4 linked regions of the Homo sapiens genome follow. The protein of the gene in region 1 interacts with the protein of each later gene in a pairwise test. Each region holds a gene or a part of one and is shown on either strand. Other genes may lie near its edges.

Evidence for each region. The genes of interacting proteins can lie anywhere in the genome.
Region 2: the proteins of ROCK1 (region 1) and SMAD2 interact in a two-hybrid assay, tested with the Homo sapiens proteins (one large-scale study listed by BioGRID and IntAct).
Region 3: the proteins of ROCK1 (region 1) and ITSN2 interact in a two-hybrid assay, tested with the Homo sapiens proteins (one large-scale study listed by BioGRID).
Region 4: the proteins of ROCK1 (region 1) and POLR3C interact in binary tests that used the Homo sapiens proteins (3 or more experiments, as listed by UniProt).

What each region holds. Positions count from the first base shown.
Region 1 is NC_000018.10:21,037,353-21,043,266, forward strand, and holds part of ROCK1 (rho-associated protein kinase 1), read right to left. Parts: intron 5,358-5,914; coding exon 5,213-5,357; intron 4,884-5,212; coding exon 4,745-4,883; intron 2,212-4,744; coding exon 2,120-2,211; intron 1-2,119. UniProt on the Homo sapiens protein: Protein kinase which is a key regulator of the actin cytoskeleton and cell polarity.
Region 2 is NC_000018.10:47,920,264-47,925,387, forward strand, and holds part of SMAD2 (mothers against decapentaplegic homolog 2), read right to left. Parts: intron 1-5,124. UniProt on the Homo sapiens protein: Receptor-regulated SMAD (R-SMAD) that is an intracellular signal transducer and transcriptional modulator activated by TGF-beta (transforming growth factor) and activin type 1 receptor kinases.
Region 3 is NC_000002.12:24,294,141-24,299,264, forward strand, and holds part of ITSN2 (intersectin-2), read right to left. Parts: intron 4,675-5,124; coding exon 4,525-4,674; intron 1,665-4,524; coding exon 1,524-1,664; intron 1-1,523.
Region 4 is NC_000001.11:145,836,472-145,841,595, reverse strand, and holds part of POLR3C (DNA-directed RNA polymerase III subunit RPC3), read right to left. Parts: intron 5,103-5,124; coding exon 5,022-5,102; intron 4,782-5,021; coding exon 4,730-4,781; intron 4,579-4,729; coding exon of another isoform or gene 4,576-4,578; exon of another isoform or gene 4,105-4,575; intron 4,061-4,104; coding exon 4,000-4,060; intron 3,541-3,999; coding exon 3,390-3,540; intron 1,707-3,389; coding exon 1,605-1,706; intron 1,481-1,604; coding exon 1,431-1,480; intron 675-1,430; coding exon 525-674; intron 1-524. UniProt on the Homo sapiens protein: DNA-dependent RNA polymerase catalyzes the transcription of DNA into RNA using the four ribonucleoside triphosphates as substrates.

The sequences.
Region 1 (5,914 bases):
ATACCAAAAAAAACTATTATTTGTATTAGAAAGCAATTTTGCCACGGAAAATGGAAACCCAAAAAAATTAAAAGGAATTATAACTGTTACATAAGTTTTAAAAATTTAGCAGGTCAAAGAGGTCAGTTCAGAATAAAAGAATTCTTGGTATTTTAGGGGTGGGAAGTAAAGAAGGGGTAGGAAGAGGGGAAGGGAAGCAAAGAACAATAAGTTCTACAGATTTCAATTTTTCTTTGTTTTTTCCAATAACCACAAAACAGGACCTCTTAGAATTAGGAAAAACTACCAAAATTCTTTTAAGTATGCTAAATCTAACCACGCTAGAATAAAACCATAGATAATGCAGATCTTAAGTAGTTTTATGAAGGAGGTACAGCAATATAATAAAATGCCACTGATCTGGACTCCCTAATTCCATAAGACTATGAGCTCCAGAAGGGAGAAAGAAAACTTTTGGTGGTTTGATCACTGCTGTTTTCCCAGTGTCTGAAATTGAACAGTGATCAATATACAACAGGTGTTCAGTAAATAGTTGTTGACTAAATTACCTCCTCTTTCAAGTGATCGGTTTTTCAATACATAAAAGGAAAAATATCCTTGTTACTTTTGCGGTTGATTTATTGTGTGGTTATTCTATAATTATTTATGCATTGCTTAACTTTGAAAAAGAATTTAAAGCAATACAAAATATTATTTTGTATTTTCTTCAGTCCCCTTCAAAGTTTTATTCAGATTTATAATAATATTTGTACGTCTTCAGCCTTCTTAAACTTTACTAAGAGAATAACCTGAATAAAAACACAAAAAGTGTTTTGATGTAACCATTTCTCACTCCCTGATCATCTCTTTGTCATGCAACAATTTCACTTGCAGCATGAAGATAATAATTATGTCACATTTAATTCTGAAGAGGAGGAAGTTCCTTATTTCCTAGTATATAATTGCTAATAAAATTCTCCCAAAGTCAAGCTGCTCTTACAGCTTCTCAGACAGCTGGTCATTCAATGATGTTCTTTGTTGTATAATTTCTTAATTTCCAGAGGATTTATTTTCCCTTTCTCCTCCTTAGACAATTTTATAGCTCAGCACAATGTAAGTACTGTGCTATAGTACTTGAAGGCAATACAATTGTTCTTTTAAAATATTTGATAACTAGAATGCTTCACTAATATTAGCAAACCTACATGATTTATTTCATCAGAATTAACAAGATTTCCATCTCTCTGCAAAGTACTATCCTTCACTGTCTCAACTAGATAGGCAGTCCTTAAGACAAATAACTACTGTGTAACTTTCTAAAATAAGGTAGCTGAGTTCATTTCCATTGTTACTATTCACTGCTATTGCTAAGGCAGCAAGTTAGGGACTGAGATACATTATCCTTTCTCTGATAGATGAACAGGGAAAAAAATCCTAAGATGTCAGCAGGGGAAAGATGAATTCTTTACCTCCCAAATCCACGAAGATGATGAGAACCTTTGGTGTCATGATAATTTTGATTCAGCTATGTTGTAGAGTTTTCTGTGAATCATCTTGTAATTTTAACTTTTTTTAAAAAGTAAGAAAGTGTTCTAAACTGACTGAAAATTAGTTTCTTATACAATACATTTTTGTTTCTGAATTGCCAGCTGCAAAAGCCTGATGGAATCAAGTATATCACAATATCCTATAAACTCATAAATAAAATTAAATTGAATTCTGGAATTAATAATAGAACCTTCTTATATTTTGGGTTTTAATAAAAACAAGAGAATAACTTGTCTTCTCACAAAAACATATATTTTAATCTCATTACTTACTACTTATTGACCACCTCCATAATAAGATAACTAACGCCTAAAATGAACAATTCAACAAAGATCAAATGTAAAATTATGACTGGTGAGCCTAAATCCATTACATTTATATTTCATCTGGGTATCCTGCGTGGGACATAAGAGGAGTAACAATATAATCTGCCCAATATTATCAAATTAATAGGTTAGGACAATTCCCATATAGTATTTGTGGCTTCTGATTTTCATCAGATACACACAAATATTTAGCAATGTAGTTTCAACAAACTACCACAACTACTTTCAAATATTCACTAAAATATGAAAGAAAAAAAAAAACTTACTGTCTCGGAGCGTTTCCCAAGCCCACTGGTCATTTTTGAAGAAGAGATGTCGTTTGATTTCTTCTACACCATTTCGCCCTAACCTCACTTCCCTGAATAATGACAGAAGGAGAAAAGTAATCAATCATTTAAGATCTTATTATAACCTGTCCAGGTTTATTTGTGGGCAGGATATTAAATCAGTGTAGGACGACAAATATAGTTCTAAGGTGAAATTATATTGTCAGCATAGTATCAGCCCAAATAGAAAATATGTTAAAGATTGAGAACATTAAAGAATTTTTTTAAAAGAAAACTAAAGAAAGGCTGGACATGGTGGCTCATGCCTATAATCCCAGCACTTTGGGAGGCTCAGGTGGGGTGGATCACCTGAGGTCAGGAGTTCGAGACCAGCCCAGCCAACACTGTGAAACCCCATCTCTACTAAAAATATAAAACTAGCGGGTGTACTGGAACACGCCTGTAGTCCCAGCTACTTGGGAGGCTGAGACAGGAGAATCGCTTGAACCCGGGAGGCAGAGGCTACAGTGAGCTGAGATTGCGCCACCGCACTCCAGCCTGGATGAAACACAGCGAGACTCCGTCTCAAAAAAAAGAAAACTAAAGAATAACTACAAAAAACACCCATGACTTTTCTACTGACAACAAAAATCCAGATTAATCACCACCTTACTTCATTAGCAAAATGAATAAAGCACCATGCATTTTCTTGACAGTTTTTTGTGTGTGTGTGTTATTTTTTTCTTACAATGGTAAAGTTAGGCTTTTTTTTCCCCAACCAAAACTTTACTTAGGCAGCAATACCAGATGCTACCAAAAACCTCCAGAAACACATTTAAAATTTTGAACTTCCAATTTATAATCTATTAATTATTTCTGACCATTCAAAAGCCAATGACTACTAATTCTTGATACTGCCACAGAATTCAGAGCTTTCACTGGACAAGTTACTGATACCAGCCTCTTTTTTGGTGAGCAAAAAGTTTTTAAAAATGTGATTTTAGCTGAATTGGAAAAAGAAAGTTAGCACCTTTTTTCCCTAGTACAGTGCTTATAAATAAAGAAAATACTCTAAATTCTAAGTTTTTGCATAAGCTAAAAGATAAGTTGGCTTAGACATGTGACAATTTTTCCAAGAAGCTTTCACTAACTCTCAAACTGGATTAGAAAACCTCTCCATGGTTCTCCGGCACATGGTACTTATCTCATGGTAATTAGCTGTGTGTACTATAAATGTCTGATTTGCTTATCTAATTCCCCCAAAGGACTATGAGGTATTTGAGAAAAGTGGCTCTGTATCTTCCTCACTACTATATCCCTAGCACCTAATAAACAGCATAATACAATGCTTTATATTAAAATGTAAAAATTGGCCAGGTGCGGTGGCTCACACCTGTAATCCCAGCACTTTGGGAGGCCAACGCAGGCAGATCATGAGGTCAGGAGTTCAAGACCAGCCTGGCCAACATAGTGAAACCCTCTCTATCAAAAATACAAAAATTAGCCAGGCATGGTGACAGGAACCTGTAGTCACAGCTACTTGGGAGGCTGAGGCAGGAGAATCACTTGAATCCGGGAGGTGGAGGTTGCAGTGAGCCGAGATCATGCCACTGCACTCCAGCCTGGGCAACAGAGTGAGACTCTGTCTCAATCAATCAATCAATCAATGTAAAAATTAGCCAGGCATGGGTGGCTCAGGCCTGTAATCCCAGCACTTTGGGAAGCTGAAGTGGGAGGATCACTTGATCCCAGGAGTTTGAAACCAGCCTGGGCAACAGAGCAAAACCCTGTCTCTATTTAAAAAAAAAAAAAAAAAAAAAAAGTAAACATTTGAAAAACCATACTTCAAGCTCTAAAGGACATAATGAAGGGAGACAAGTTAAAGCAAATCTCAACTTGAAACATATTTAAAAGTACTAGGTCTCCCTAATATTTAACAATATACAATCATAAACATTAAATATAATCTTACTAATACATCTGGTTCACTTTCAAATTTCAAAAGTAAACCACAAAGGTATATATAATATGCCATTTTTCTTTCAAAAATGCAGACAGACATTATTATTAAAATGCTTGTTGGATCTACAAGATGGAACACCAACTATTATGTCTAGAAGAAAAAAGATAGTATACTTTTAAAAATGGCTTTATACTATTGACTCTTTCAACAACCATATACCATACATCATCAAATCTAAAATGGTTTAAAGTATAAGGTGTATCACCGTTTTTATACCACTATGAAAAAGGATGCTCCCAACTCATACCATTGACTGTGAGATGTACTCTAATTTCAGAGATGTTATGTTAAAAAATTTTTTTAGATTCAGTAAAATACACAGTAATTTTTATAATTAACCAAGTTAAAAATTGAACAATAAAAGAAAAAAGTCATCTAGTTTAGCCATCAGCCAAGACTGTATTATTATCACAATTTCTTAGGTATGATAAGTGAGTTGAGATCTACAAAAGACATCTAGAATATCATAAAATTACATCAGGTTTCACTGTCATTTATATTCTAACAATTTACATGTAGAAGCTCAGATATGGACCTTAAAAATGGAGCAGAAGATGAGAAGTCCTCAGAATTAATACAGGCTCAGTTTTAAAATTATTTACCTGTCAGTAAGGAAGGCACAAATAAGGTTTTTTGCTTCTTTTGATATGTCATTATCATCAGGAAAGGTAAGTGAATTTTTATGGTTCATAATTTTACTGTAAGTTCCAACCAAAGAATCTGCATAAAAAGGTGTATCACCTGAAAAATTGATAAAGAAAACAAAAGCAAAATGAAATACATTTTTAAAAAGTCAGTTTCAAAGGAAGAGTCAAAGTTACCCGTTTAAAAAGATTATTAGGTATGTATTAAACTAAAAACATACACCTAATATATAAAAGAACACATCACAAAGTTGCTCTAAGCCTCTAAATGCTTTTAAAAACACATACGAAGCAGGTTTGGATCATGTTTATTACCCACAAATAAAATCAAGATTGCTTAATATAATAAATATATTAGAAAGAGCCAAGTGGCAAGTTTTGAGATGAACAACTGTAATAGAGAGACATAAAATCTTCCTTACTCACCTACAAGCATTTCGTATAAAAATACCCCAACCGACCACCAGTCACATTCTCTTCCATAATAACCATCACCACCTTGGGATTTTAATACTTCAGGGGAAATATAATCAGGTGTTCCAACCGCTGTATCACATCGTACCATGCCTTCCTAAAAAGCGCGGCAGGTCAAATTTTGAATTAGGATATAAAGTCTCAATTATTTAAAATGACTTTCTTATTAATATTACCTATGGGACTCCAAATCTTTGAGCTATAAAATATCATATATTAAAACTGAATGGAAACCTGACAAAAATTAACACAGCTTAATCATATATATACATACTATATACACACCATATACATATATACCATATAATGTATGTATGTGTATACATGTGAATGCATATACACACACATTATATGTGTATTCACATATATACACACACCAGTGATTATTTTGTAATAATGCTCACTAGAAAAACATACTGCCACATTTATTATTCCCCAAGTTGTGCCAATATCATGAAACCATTTAACTGCTGAGAACAAGTACACAGGCCAGTGCAAATACACTGGGGAGTTCATAGGATAGGGCATTTTACAACATATTGGTATAAACACTGACTTCATTATTTTCTACTAAAATAGCTATTTAACTATGTTTGAAACTACAAAAGAAACATACAAAAGCTGACTGTACAAATACAAACTGGGGAAGCATAT
Region 2 (5,124 bases), about 27 Mb from region 1:
CAAAGATCCCATTTCCTGATGCCATCACAGCGGGAATTACAAGATGAAATCATAATTTAATAATTTTATTAATCTAACCCAATATATCCAAAATACTATTTCAATTCGCAATCCGTATTAAAAACCATTGAAATATTTAACATTCTGTTTTTGTACTGTTAGAAAATTGGTGTGTATTTTATGCTTGTGGTCCATCTCAATTTCAAGAGCTCAATAGCCACATGGTGGCTAGTGGCTATCATACTGGACAGAGCAACTCTAGAAGGATAAACGAAAAGCTAGTAACAGTGGTTACATTTCTGGAAAGCACAACTGGGCAGCAGGAGGTAGGAGATGTAAAGGAGGCTTACTTTTTTCAGTATTTGCTATTTTGTTCTCCTTGACTTTTATACCATGTGCATGTGTTATTCGAAAAAATGAATAAAGTACATTCTCTAAAATAAATTACAAATGTAGATATTCTTTGAACTACTCCTAGAAATCTATCTTACAGACATACCTGCAAAGGAGCAAAATGCTATATAAACGAAGTTATTTGTTGTAGCATTGTTTTTAATACCACAAGACTGGAAACATTCAACAGAGGACTGATGATATATTCAGACACCCGGCCAGGCACAGTGGCTTACGCCTGTAATCCCAAAACTTTGAGGGGCCGTGGCAGGCAAATCGCTTGAGCCCAGGAGTTCAAGACAAATCTAGGCAACATGGCGAAACCCCACCTCTACAAAAAATTTTAAAAATTAGCTGGATATGGTAGGCATGCGCCTGCAGTCCCAACTACTCAGGTAGCTGAGGTGGGAGATTAACTTGACCCCTGGCAGTCAAGGTTGCAGTGAGCTGTGATCACACCACTGCACTCCAGCCTGGGTGACAGAGTGAGACACTGTCTCAAAAAAAAATTTACAGACACCCATACAAAAGAATATTATACAACCCACTACTCCAAAAAAGAAGAAAGGCATTCATTACATACTGACACAAAATAAGATGTACTATTAAGTGACATATGTGACCACTTGTACTAAAAGGTAATATACACACAAAATTGTTCATAGATGCATAAAATCTCTGGAACACCACACAAAAACCTAGTAAAGCTACTTGCCTTTGAAAAGGCAACTGTATGGCAAAGAACAGACCAGTAAAGAGACTCTTCACTGGGTATCCCTGAATTTTGGATTGCAGTCATGGATTATGTATACAAAAATTCACTATTCCACATGCAGCTGTAGATGTTTTCATGTACCCTGCCTTGCCTTGCTGTGATATTAAAGTCCATCTAAAGCCTACTGTTTTTCCAGTTCCTCCATAGAGAGGTCTGAGGCTTCTTTCTCCAAGAAGCCCCAGATGTTTCAATGATACCAGAACACTTTTCATTTTTTAATTTTTTTAAGCACACAGTTCCCACAGTTCTGTCTCCTTTCATTGAATGGCATTATAACCTCAGCCCCAACTACTGAATCTTATCTCTAGTAAATCCCCCAAGGCCACACTTCCCTTAAAGTTGACTGATTTTTCTAAGTTTCTAGTACCTGGGCACTTTCTCTCTCAAGATCAACTGTATACATAAGAGAAAACTTTTATATTTTATCCAACATTTTCATCTGTTTACAGTAAGAAGAATGGGCCTAACTTGTGTCTGTGTCATTTTAAGAAATTTAGATAAAGACAGTATAAACAATAACAGCAAACACTGAAGAAAGTATGATCACTGAGAAAAGACTGCTAAACTTGACAGTTCATCCGGAAGGCCAGTAGGAAGGGAAATGTGAAAAAGAATGGTTAAAAAATATGTTTGCAAAGTTGAAGTCAAGAACAGATAGTGATTAAATGTAGAAAGCAAAAGTAGATTGCACTTTTAAAAGGTATGGAGGGAAGAGAAATTTCAAATCTTCAAACTGCAGGAAAATACAAAATATTCCCCAAATACCTATGTGAATTTTTATTTAGAAAGAAAACCAAAGTTAATTATTTCAACAAAAATACTTTAAATATGATGGTGCTGCCTCATCTAGAACATCTAAGGTCCCACTAGAAATAATATAAAATCACTGTGCAGTCAATCCTCCTTATCTGTGGGTTCCAAATACATGGATTAAACCAACCATGGATAAAAAATATTCAGGAAAAAACTGTGACTGTACTGAACATGTACAGACTTTTTTCTCATCATTTCTAAAACAATATAGAATAACAACTATTTACATTGTATTAGATATTAAGTAATCTAGAGAGGATTTAAAGAATAACAATAAAATGTGCATAAAACAAATTCTACACCATTTTATACAAGGGACTTCAGCGTTCTCATATTCTGGTGCTTGCAGGAGAGTCCCGGAACCAATCCTCTGTGGAGACCGAGATTTTTAGCAATCTATGTTCAAACATACTACAAGGCAGAGAAAAAAACAGCAGCATCAATGACCTGGAATTGTATAACTGTTTTAGTCAAATAAATAATTCATTAGTAACCAGGATAATAGAAAACCTCAAAAAAATTAAAATACATAAAACCCAATTTTTTAAAAACAGATTTTTCAATTCTCACTACAACTATGTTCTCTCCAAAGCGTAAGCTAGTAAGGAAAGACACTGCCAACTGGAAACCTAGGTCGGCCCCCATGGAGAATGATGGGTCATGTCTTTTAAACAAAAGCAAACAGAAAACATTCATGTGTTCAACTTTATGGACTGTCAAACCTAATGCAAGCTTGAATTTAATTCAAGAAAATTATTATTTTAGCAAAAGTCCACATTAAATAGGGACTGCTGTGTAAAGAGACTACTTATTTTTTTTTTTTTAACTAAGAGTTATATTCCTATCACCTATAATGAGTTTTGTGGAATCCACAACTCTATAATCAACTTGTAAACACGTAACTTACATATTGGTTTATCATTCCCAGATTATTAAAAAAAAAAAAAAAGCACCTATGACAACACTACACAGGCCCAGACTCAAATCAGCACAAATATAAAGTACAAGTACTCTAATTGCTCTTCAAATTCCCAAAGTCTATCCTGACCCTCTTCTGAAGCAGCAACTAATACCACGTCAATTCACGTGAGTGGGGTCCTCAGGCCATAAAAGCTCAATTAAAGCAAAGTCTAGAGTAGTGCCACCCAACACAACTTTATACAATGATGTAAATGTCCTTGGGTATCTGTGCTGTCTAATACAGTAGCCATCAGCTGCATATGGCTATCTAAATTTAGATTAAGTAAAATTTAACATTCAGTTTCTCAGTCACAGCAGCCACATTTCAAGTGCTAAATAGCCACATGTGGCTGGCAGCTACCTGTTAAGATAGAGCAGGTCTACAGCAAAAATTTCTCCAAGACCTACTGTTCTTCAGCTGTGCTTCAAAGGCTTCCTGGTGGTGAGGATGAGAGGAAAACTGATCAGGCAGGACTTCAACAACTGCCTATTCTTCCTTCCACAAAACAGCTTTACTCCTTTTATCTGTTTTACATTTCGAAATTCTGCATATTTCTCTCTAAAGGCTTTCTAGTTGCTGCTGTGTGTGCAGGTGTGCACATGTTTTAAGTCTGACTACTACTGGTTTCGAGCAGAAATGGCCAATGCACAACCTCAGGCCAAAGCTGGACCCTCCTGATAACTAAAACATTTTTTAAAAAAAAGTTTAATTGATCAGCTAACATGAACTACAACCTAACTACCTGTCTATTAAGAATTTTAGGCCGGGCGCAGTGGCTCACGCATGTAATCCCAACACTTTGGGAGGCCAAGGTGGGCGAATCACCTGAGGTCAGGAGTTCGAGACCAGCCTGACCAACATGGTGAAACCCCGTTTCTATTAAAAATACAAAATTAGCCGGACATGGTGGCGCATGCCTGTAATCCTAGCTACTCAGGAGGCTGAGGCAGGAGAACTGCTTGAACCTAGGAGGCGGAGGTTGCAGTGAGCCAAGATCGCACCACTGCACTCCAGCCTGGGCAACAGGAGCAAAACTCCGTCTCAAAAAAAAAAAAAAAAAGAATTTTAAAAGTGGATCTCAATAAGGAAAATTTACATTTACTACCACAGATAAAGTATCTCTAGTCAACAAAAGAGTTTCAATAGTTCACTCAAGTCAAGGCAGAAGGCTCACGGGCCCAGCTTCCACTGCATCATTTATGAGGATTTTATATAGGAGGCTCTGCAAAAAAGATTTGCCACCCCACATTTTCTTTTTTTTCTTTTTTTTTTTTGAGACGGAGTCTTGCTCTGTCTCCCAGGCTGGAGAGCAGTCGCGGGATCTCGGCTAACTGCAACCTCGGCCTCCCCGGTTCAAGCAAGTCTCCTACCTCAGCCTCTTGAGCAGCTGGGACTACAGGTACCCGCCACCACACCCAGCTAATTTTTGCATTTTTAGTAGAGACAAGGTTTCACCATGTTGGCCAGGCTGGTCTCAAACTCCTGACCTCAAAGTGATCCGCCCGCCTCAGCCTCCCAAAGTGCTGGGATTACAGGCGTGAGCCACTGCCTCCGGCCTCACCACCTCACATTCTGAAATGAAAGACGTGATGAGGATGGAACGTTTCCTTGATATTTACAAGACCTTAACCATTATGTCTCTACAGAATTTCTGGAAGTAGCTGAAGCAGCATATGAAAATGTAGTTTACTTTTAAACATAGGCAAACTATAAGATCACAGATTCACTATGCTACTTCCTCAGATCAAGAGTCTTTTTTGACTTAAGAGACTCAAACTAATGAACAGATGGAATACCAGTGGTTCACCCAAGATTATTCCTACTGAATACATTAAATGTGAAACTACATCCCCCTTCCCCACAAAATGAGGGAAGGTATGACACTGTAGATTATTCAAGGAAATGCAAATTTTTACATTAAGGTAGACACGTGTACTAAACAGAAGCAACTAAAGTCTATCCTCGCTTTCCACTACTCTACAGCCTTGAGGCCAATGTAAAACCAGATTTTGAAAAATGACAGGGCTACCTAGGATAATTAGTGACAATTTCACAGTAAATTCACAAACTTTGATAAGAATTAATCACGTCAGAATTTCTATTTTCTTAAGACTACAAACCTAAAGATACATCAAGCACCTGTCCTATCAATGTGCCTCAGTTACAAATAAGAGGAACCCAC
Region 3 (5,124 bases), on another chromosome or scaffold:
AAAAGCTGGGTGCGGTGGCTCACACCTGTAATCTCAGCACTTTGGGAGGCCAAGGCAGGTGGATCACTTGAGGTCAGGAGTTCAAGACCAGCCTGGTCAACATGGTGAAACCCCGTCTCCACGAAAAACACAAAAATTAGCCAGGCGTGGTGGTGGGTGCCTGTAATCCCAGCTACTCAGAAGGCTGAAGCAGGAGAATTGCTTGAGCCTGGGAGGCAGAAGTTGCAGTGAGCTGAGGTCATGCCACTGCACTCCAGCCTGGGTGACAGAGGGAGGAAAAAATAAAAAGGACTAAAAACTAGGAAAGCAGGTTTAAATCAGACAGAAAATATTTTTGGCTTTTGTTTATCTCTCCTGTAACAAAGCAAAAAGACTGATTAATTGCCAGTCCATGCAGTAAGAGAAATTGGGTAAGAGAACTCTAGAGATGCAGAATGCTTCCACAGCCCCATTCTGCAAATAGTAATTATTGAACCAGACCCTACTGCACAAGTAAGGAAGAGAATTACCAGGACCCCAAGGGACATATTCAAGTTCTCATCATAATTTTAAAAAGAATAACTTTAAGTCAAAATTTCCTAAAATTAGTAGCAATAACCTTATTTTAATGTATGATATGGTCTGAATGTTGGTATGTCCCCAACATTCATATGTTGGAACCTAACTCCCAATGCAGTACTATTAAGAAGTAGGGCTTTAGGAGGCTCCACACTCATGAATGAGATGACTGTCCTTATAAAGGAAGTTGAAGGGACTGCCTTACCCTTTCTGCATGTGAAGACGCAGCAAGAAGGCACTAGTTTTAAAGGAGACAGCAAGCCCTCATCGGACACTGAATCTGCTAACACCTTGATCTTGGACTTCTCAGTCTCTAGAACTATGAGTAATAAATTTCTGTTGTTTATAAATTACCCAGTCTAAGGTCGTTTGTTATAGCAAGTAATGAATTAAGAATGCATAAACATTGTTAAAGAGTTAAAACTCAAAGTGATAAATGTCCACTTACGTATATATATTAAGCAAAACTTAACCAGACGTCTAGCAGAGTTTTAGTAGGTCTATGGACTTCCTGATATTGTATACAGGATTGCGTGTATTTAGATCACAAGCCTATCAAAGACTCAAGGTTATTGACCCCCAAAACAAAACTCTATTAGAAGAACTGTTTCGTTTTGTTTTGTTTTGAGATGGAATCTCGCTCTATCATCCATGCTGGAGTACAGTGGTGCGATCTGGGTTCACTGCAACCTCTGCCTCCCGGAATCAAGCGATTCTCCTGCCTCAGCCTCCCGAGTTGCTGGGATTACAGGCATGCGCCACCATACCCAGCTAATTTTTTTGTATTTTTAGTAGAGACGGGGTTTTGCCCTGCTGACTGGGCTGGTCTCGAACTCCTGACCTCAGGGGATCCACCCGCCTCAGCCTCCCAAAGTGCTAGCATTACAGCCGTGAGCCACCGTGCCCAGCCCAGAAGAACTATTAATTGTACATGTTTAAGAACAATTTAGCAGTGAAGGACTTACCTGAAGTTCCTGTTGAAGTTGCTTGATTTCCATAATTTCCAAGTCACACTGCTTATCCAGAACTTCCAGCTCAGTCTTTTGAGTTTGCTTTTTGAGTCGGACATCCTGAAGTCTGCCTGAGATCTGCTGATGTTTGCCATTCTATAGGAAGATCATATAAATATATAGTAACATAAAATGCTAATAGAAAATGTTTCTACAAGGAGAATAATATTTTTAGTTAAATTTTAAAATCTCAGTTATCATTCATATTCATCCTGAAACAAATGCCTAAAACCAAGTGGAATGTGTTTCAGAGTTGTGTCTGTTAACTCGAGTTATTAGTGGGAAACACATCATTCTCAGAGTGCAAGAGCCCATATGTTAGTATGGGAAAGCAGAAACATAACACATTGAATTTTTTTCTGAATTCAGCATTAGACAATATTAATTAACAATATTAATATCAGAGACACTCTCAAAGAATGATGAAGAGGAATAAATGTTTGCATGTGATGCTCGGCATTACCTTCTCTGAACTTCTATTTCTACCCTAAATATGGCCATCTAATTTCCTCTAATTAAAACAGTGCCCAGGAGGAACGTTTTGGCAACAGTTCTGTTCTATACTAATATTCTTCTCCTTTTTTCCTCTTCTTCTGTGAAGAAATCAAACAAATAGCAGAGATTCTCAATGGGACCTAAGAAGAAGGGTGACATGGGGGGTTATGGGCTGAACTGTGTCCCCCAAAATTCATATGTTAAAGTCCCAAGCCCCAGTACCTCAGAATGTGACAATATTTGGAGACAGGGCCTTTAAAGAGGTGATTAAGGTTAAACAAAGTCATACAGGTGGACCCTAATCCAATCTAACTGGTGTCCTTATTAGAGGTGGAAATCTGAACACAAAAGGCACCAGAGATAAAATACACTCAGAGAAAACACCATATAAGGACACAATGAAAGATGGCCACCTGCAAGCCACCAAAAGAGGCCTCACAAGAAACTAAGCCTAACTAACCTTGGTCTTAGATCTTAGGAGCTGTGAAAAAATTAATTTCTGTTGTTTAAGCCACCTAGCCTATCGTATTTTGTTACAGCAGCCCTACCAAACTAATACAGTGGAGTGAGGGGAAATGACATCCTGGGTTAAAACTTACTGATGATGAAAAGTTTTACTGAAGACTGTTTCATATTTGAAATACATACACTGAAAGGAACATGTGTATCTCTGCTGGAGCTCACATTCTTATCCTCAACATGGGATACGTATAGGCTCTGGACCTTTCCAGACTCTGCACATTCACCTGTGTTACTGTGCTTCATGTGTTGCACCAGTTCTTGAGGGAAAAACAATCAATCTTAAGGTCTCTTCCCATTATATATAGTCAAGATGATATATATATATAAAAATAGTGCAAGAGAGTTAAAAGTTTTTTACAACTGTTTTGTAGTACTCTGGCATGATTAATACTTGTGGTATGTATGTCTATCCATTTGAAGGAATAAAATAATATATTTCTGACTAAAGATATTGTGATGATTAAAAAAATAATTTTTAATGTAATTCAAGTCATCAACCAAATAAAATGTTAGACTATGATCACACAAGATCTAAATCTGGCTCTACTACATGACTAGGTATGCATTTTTGTAAAACCCTACTATATGATCAGGGTAGGCTCATGGGATTCTAGGGTTGTGGCAGAATAGTGCCAGATCTTTTATACCTTCTCACCACACATTTCAAACAAAGTCTTTTAACAACTTGACCCTCTAACATCTGATTGGTAAAAACTGCTTAGTGGCCAGTATTAGCTAAGAACTACAATCCTGCAGAACTGGAACTGTAAGAGATCATTTAGGTCAGCAGTTTCAAATCAGTTGTCTTTTTAATAGTAGAATCTTTTTTTTTCCAAGCAAATCTTGAGTGAAACCCCAAGAAACATAAAGCACATAAATGTCAAGCTTCTCTGTTGTGAAGCGTGGGAAGAATTAGGGAGAGAAAATCACTGTTCTGCTGCCCGAGCTTCCCCTCTCCTGCCTCTGCTTAGTCCTCCTCAGACCATCTTACAGAGACCAATCTGAAAACTGAAAATCACTCAACTAACACAACTCTTTATTTCAGACAAGGGAAAAGTGAGGCACAGAGAAGGGAAATGTCTTGCCCAGGAGTACATGGTTCATCAGTGTCTGAACTGATGCTACAACATAATTCTCAGCATTTTGAGTCATTATCCTTTTCTCAGTAAACCATATTGTACAGTCTGTTTATATGAAAATGTGACTAATGACATTAAGACATAACTAATTCACGAGAGATTTTAAAACACAATTACATTTTTCTTTTTTTTTTTTTTGAGATGGCGTCTCACTCTGTTACCTAGGCTGGAGTGCAGTGGTGCGATCTTGGCTCACTGCAACCTCCACCTCCTGGGTTCAAGTGATTCTCCTGCCTCAGCCTCCCAAGTAGCTAGGATTACAGGCACCCACCACCACCCACCACGGCCAGCTAATTTTTGTTTGTTTGTTTGAGACGGAGTCTCACTCTGTTGCCCAGGCTCGAGTGCAGTGGCGCGATCTCAGCTCACTGCAACCTCCGCCTCCCAGGTTCAAGCAATTCTTCTGCCTCAGTGTCCCAAGTAGCTGGGACTACAGGCGCACACCACCACTCCTGGCTAATTTTTGTATTTTTAGTAGAGATGGGGTTTCACTATATTGGCCAGGCTGGTCTTGAACTCCTGACCTCGTGATCCACCCACCTCAGCCTCCCAAAGCGTTGGGATTACAGTGAGCCACCATGCCCAGCCCACAGCTGGCTAATTTTTTTTTTTAGTAGAGATGGGGTTTCACCATGTTGGCCAGGCTGGTTTCAAACTCCTGCCCCAGTTGATCTGCCTGCCTTGGCCTCCCAAAGTGCTAGGATAACAGGTGTGAGCCACCACGCCTGGCCCACAATTACATTTTTCAACAGGTAGCTCCATCATCATTCAGATAAATTTCACTTAAACTTCAGCCATACCAGTGCTTCCAACTCAAGATGAAGATTCTTCTTTTTAGAGTTTAACCTGACAATTTCTTCTTGTTCTCTATTCTTTTGATTGAGAAGCTCCTGTCGCCGAATTCTCTCCCATTCTAAGCGACGTTGTCGTTCAAGTTCCTGTTTTGCTGCCTGAAAAAAAAAAGGAATTATACTTAATTTTTAAATCAAAAATTTTGCACGATTCAAAAACTGGGAAGACAACAATAAAAGTCAGGCAGAGTTTAGCACTTAGTGGCTTTAGTGCCTAAGGGTAGCTAGGCAAATCTAGTTTTATTAATGGGCTTAAAGACTTCCAAGAAAGTGGCTTCATCTATCATATTTTCTCATTTCTTCACGAGATCTTTTTTTTTTTTTTTTTTTTCCAGACAGCATCTTGCTCTGTCACCCAGGCTGGAGTGCAGTGGCACCACCTTGGCTCACTGCAACCTCCACCACCTGGGCTCAAGCGATTCTCCTGCCTCAGCCCCACCAAGTAGCTGGGATTACAGGCACACACCACCACACACCTGGCTAATTTTTGTACTTTTTGTAGAGAGAGGGTTTCACCATGTTGCCCAGGTTGGAAGACCATCCTTTTGT
Region 4 (5,124 bases), on another chromosome or scaffold:
AATAAGCGACCACTAAACTAGTATCCAAAAAAATACTTAAGAAATAAATTTAATGAAAGAGGTGCACAAATTGTGCACTGAAATGTGAAGGTCTAGGAAAGAGGTGATGAAGGCCTGCGTGTGGACCAAGATGAAAGGCCAGATTTGAGACACATGACTCAAGTAAAATTAAGCCAGCGCAGTGGCACTTGCCTGTAGTCCCAGCTACTTGGGAGGCTGAGGCAGGAAGACTGTTTGAACCTACGAGTTCAAGGCCAGTCTGGGCAACACAGCCAAAACCCCGTCTCTTAAAAAAAATTTATCAGTACTTGATGAACAAGAGAGTGTATATGGTGATGGAGAAGAAGCTCAGAACATCTTCAGAATTGCTAGTTTACAAAAATAGGTGGATTAAATTCTGTTAAGTGAGCTGGAGGAGACAGTGAGTTTAGGTTTGCTCATGCTAAGCTGGAGGGTTACAGGAGGTCAAAATGGATTTTCTGGATGGTATTCTGAAATGCAGGTCTGAAGTTTATGATGCTTACTTGTTGACATTACGTTTCAGGGTCTCTAGCTGCTGACGTTCAGGAGCTGTGATCATCTCCTCTATTTCTTGTAACTGTGCTTCCTCTGCACCAGTAGCCTGCATAGATGCAATGATGGCTTCTACCCTCTGAGATTTTTCTAGTAGACGCCTGTCAAACAAACACAACTCTGAGACATCTTCCCTAACCTGGGAGATTCTCTTACCACGTGTGTCTGAGGCACTACCCACCACCCTTTACCATTTTCCTGATCAAAGTAGATAATGTCACCTTCTAAGGACATTTTCTACAAACTTATTTGGAAATATAACTTCACTCCTGAAATTCTTATTGCCTCTCATTTGCACTTAAAAGTTTGGTGCTTTTGTACGTTTCTCACAAATTTAATCTGAAAAATTATTTCACTGGGAGCATGTTAGAAAAGTGTAGACTAATGCATGATTTACACTAATCTAAGCCAATGATTCAATGCAAGTAGACTGGTTGCTATCTCTACTGGTTCCTACTTCTCAAAAAAAAAATTTTTTTTTTTGAGATGGAGTCTCACTTTGTCGCCCAGGCTGGAGTGCAGTGGCGTGATCTTGGTTCACTGCAACCTCCACTCACTGGGTTTAAGTGATTCTCCTGCCTTAGCCTCCCGAGTAGCTGGGACTATAGGTGCCCGCCACCATGCCCAGCTAATTTTTGTATTTTTAGTGAAGACAGGGTTTCACCATGTTGGCCAGGTTGGTCTCAAACTCCTGACCTCAAGTGATCCACCTGCCTCAGCCTCCCGAAGTGCTGGGATTACAGGCATGAGCCACCCTGCCAGGCCCAGCGTCTATTGATTCCTATTTCTAGAGGAAATTTCCCCTGAGGCCCTTGATCTTGAAAGATGTAAATAACTCAACTGAAAATGTTACTTACTTATTCTCTTTGGTTTCAAATTGCCTCCTTTCTATCAAGTTGGCTATGCTCTGAGGAAAGAGAAGACAGACAAGGAATGCACATAGTTCTATTTCAGCAGCTCAGGGCGAAGTGGGCACATGAGGGGTACTTGACCGTATGGAGGAAATGGGGAGAAGGTCCAGATTGAGTTACCTTGTAGCACCTGTGCAACAACATTCGGGCAGCTGACAGGATGTTCACAGTATATAAATAGAAGGTCCTGGATGGGGCATGGTCTGGTGTTTTGGGAATTTCCTATTTGTCCAATAGAAAGAAAAATAGCAGAAATTATACTGTTTTAGAACTGGCAAAGCACACACTCATTCTACCTGGAGTTACTTAGCCCTCCTTTTTACTTACACTTTCCTGTTTCCTAGTCATTCAGTACCTGTGTTTATTTTATTTATTTATTTTGAGACTGGGTCTTGCTCTGTTACCTAGGATGGAGTGCGGTGGCATGATATCAGCTCACTGCAACTTCCACCTCCGGCTCAAGCAATCCTCCCACCTCAGTCCCCCAAGTAGCCGGAACTACAGGCATGCACCACCATGCTCCGCTAATTTTTTAATCTTTTGGGGGTGGTGGAGACATGGTCTCACTATATTTTCCAGGCTGGTCTTGAATTCCTGGGCTCAAGTGATCATCCCGCCTTGGTTTCCCAAAGTGCTGAGAATACAGGTGTGCCCGGCCCAGTCTTTGTGGTTTATGTCATAATCAGTCAAATGGAGAGCTGGGCTTCCCTGTTTTTTCCATTTGACTGTCAGCATCCTGAGCTGGGGAAGAAAGGGAGGGCAACTAACATTTACTGAACAACTCTATGTGCCAGGTAAATTCTATTTGATCTTTACAAAAAGTCGTATTATTATTATTTTTGAGACAGAGTCTTGCTCTGTTGCCCAGGCTGGAGTGCAGTGGCACAATGTTGGCTCACTGCAACCTCTGCCTCCCAGGTTCAAGCAATTCTCCTTCCTCAGCCTCCTGAGTAGCTGGGATTACAGACACACGGCACCACGCCCAGCTAATTTTTGTATTTTTAGTAGAGACAGGGTTTCACCAGGTTGGCCAGGCTATTCTCGAATTCCTGACCTCAAGTGATCCGTCCGCCTAGGCCTCCCAAAGTGCTGGGATTACAGGCATGAGCCACCGCACCTGGCAACCATATTATTTTTATTATCACCATCCATCACTGTTTTATAGATGGGAAACGTGGTAACTTGCTTAATGTAACTGGGTAAGGCAGAGCTGTAATCTGACTCCAAAAATCCATTCTATCTATTTACTCATATGCTCTACTAAATAGCCCTGCAAAGACTCAGTTAGATGTGTTGATAAATTTAAACTATAACAGAATTAAGGCTTAAGGAAGGACAGAAATGAGAAGAGAAAAAAAGGCAGGGTGGGTTTGGGGTGATGTCCTGGCTCTGCCTCTTTTTTGTTTTTTGTTTTTTTTGTTTTTTGAGACAGAGTCTCACTCTGTTGCTCAGGCTAGAGTGCAGTGGCTTGATCTCGGCTCACTGCAACCTCCCCCTCCTGGGTTCAAGAGAGTCTCCTTCCTGCCTCAGCCTCCCGAGCAGCTGGGACTATAGGCGTGTGCCACCAGGCCCAGCTAATTGTTTTGTATTTTATTAGAGACGGAGTTTCACCATGTTGGCCAGGCTGGTCTCGAACTCCTGACCTCAAGTGATTTGCCCACCTTGGCCTCCCAAAGTGCTGGGACTACAGGCGCGAACCACCGTGCCCGGCCACCTCTTTCTCACTAGGGCAGTTAAGGCCCCAAATTATCCTCCAAGTGCTCGCTATGTCTCTGTGAATCATGTTTTTCTGTCTCAGAGCTGGATATAGAGTTTGCTTGGGGGTTCAGTATGTTTGCCTAAGAAGCTTCTCTCACCCTAGGCCAGCTTTGCTGGTTGGCAATTATTACGCCCTTGGTTGGTTACCTGGAGTGACATGAAATTTTCTGAGAGCATCTTATATAGCATATCCTTTGCCTCCTTTGCAGGAATCATTGCAAAGTCTTCCACTTGCTTCTGCTCTATGTGTTTCTTCTGCAAAACTAGACGGAATATTCTAGCACAGCGAGACCCAAATCTGGAAAGGAATGAAGAAAGCAAATGGCATGCTAACATAGATCAGCTTTAGTTCCCAGTCATAGATGGGGTGGTTGTTCTATTCCATGTGTGAAGCCAGTACCAGACAGGAACAGTGATCAGAAAATTATTCTACAGCTCCATAGGTTGGTGATGGTAAGGCATCACCAACTGCTGTTAATCATAAGGCAGTCACCAACTGCTGACTCATTTGAGTGCCACAGTTCCTACATTTGTAAGCAAAGGCTTTAGGGAGGCTGGTTAATTTGCATCGGTAGGAATTAAACAGTAGGTTATTTTAAGGTAAAGAGCAGTATTACATGAGATCCATAGGAGTCCAGTGAAAAAATGGGGAAAAGTATGCCAAGGTGTGGTTATATTGGTGGCTTACATAATGATCAAATTACTTCACTGGGGATAGGAAGTATGTGATCCCAAACCCAACCAGTGTCCCCCTTACCTCTCCTGTACGACGGACTCCAGAGTGGCTGTGGCTAGGGATGCTAATGCCTTATGGAGGTCTTTATGTAGAGAATTAAGGTCACTCAGTAATGTTTTGGCCTAGTTATTGTGATCTGAGTTTTATTCCTAAGTTTCTAATTTATAATTAAATTTTAAATGCTATTTTGTTTTTCATGTTATAATTTATGGTTTCAGTCATGGTACATAAATATTCCAAAACTTTAATACAAGTGTTTAAGTAAGGGTTTTGCTTAACTAAAATTTGGTTGATTAAAAGTCCTTTTTCCTTTTCTTTTTTGAGACAGGGTCACCCAGGTTGGAGTACAGTGGCATGATCTCAGCTTACTGCAACGTCTGTCTCCTGGGCTCTAGCGATCCTCCCACCTCAGCCTCCTGAGGAGCTGGACTACAAGCATGCATCGTTACAGCTGGCTAGTTTTTGTATTTTTGGTAGAGATGGGGTTTTGCCATGTTGCTTAGCTGATCTTGAACTCCTGGGTTCATGCAATTCACCTGCCTCAGCCTCCCAAAGTCCACCATGCCTGGCCTCTTTTTACTTCATCATCAATGCAGTTCACTGAAAATTCATAGAAAAATTTATTTAACAATTACTTCAATTTTCTAATTTATTTAGTATAATAAACATTACCAAATCTTTCTTTCCTAAGGCACCATTCTGATTTATAGGTCAGGCTGCCTGACTCTAAGGAAATAACTGGTAAGGATACTGATGACATACATTCCTCCACCACTGTCGCCAGACTTTCCAACAAACTCTAGCTATTAAGAAAAAGAGAGAGTGTTAACTGAACGGAAAGTCCAGTGATTCTGTTTCCAATGGAACAAATCTGACCAAAAGTCTGCAGCAGGTAGCCCTCCTATCAAATGATGTGGAGAAATTGTCTGGGCTGGCTAGGTAGAGAATAACTCTGCAGGAGGATGACACTAGGTATCAGTGCAGAAATAAATTATCAACAGTACAGGCTAAAGAAAAAAGAAAAAAAGCAAAAACAGACTTACTGGATCATCTGCCAGCAGAGTGAGATACTGATCAAGAACTTGCTTAGAGATGTTATAGCCAACAGGTAGGGATCTGAAGATCTATGGAGCAAAGGACACTTAA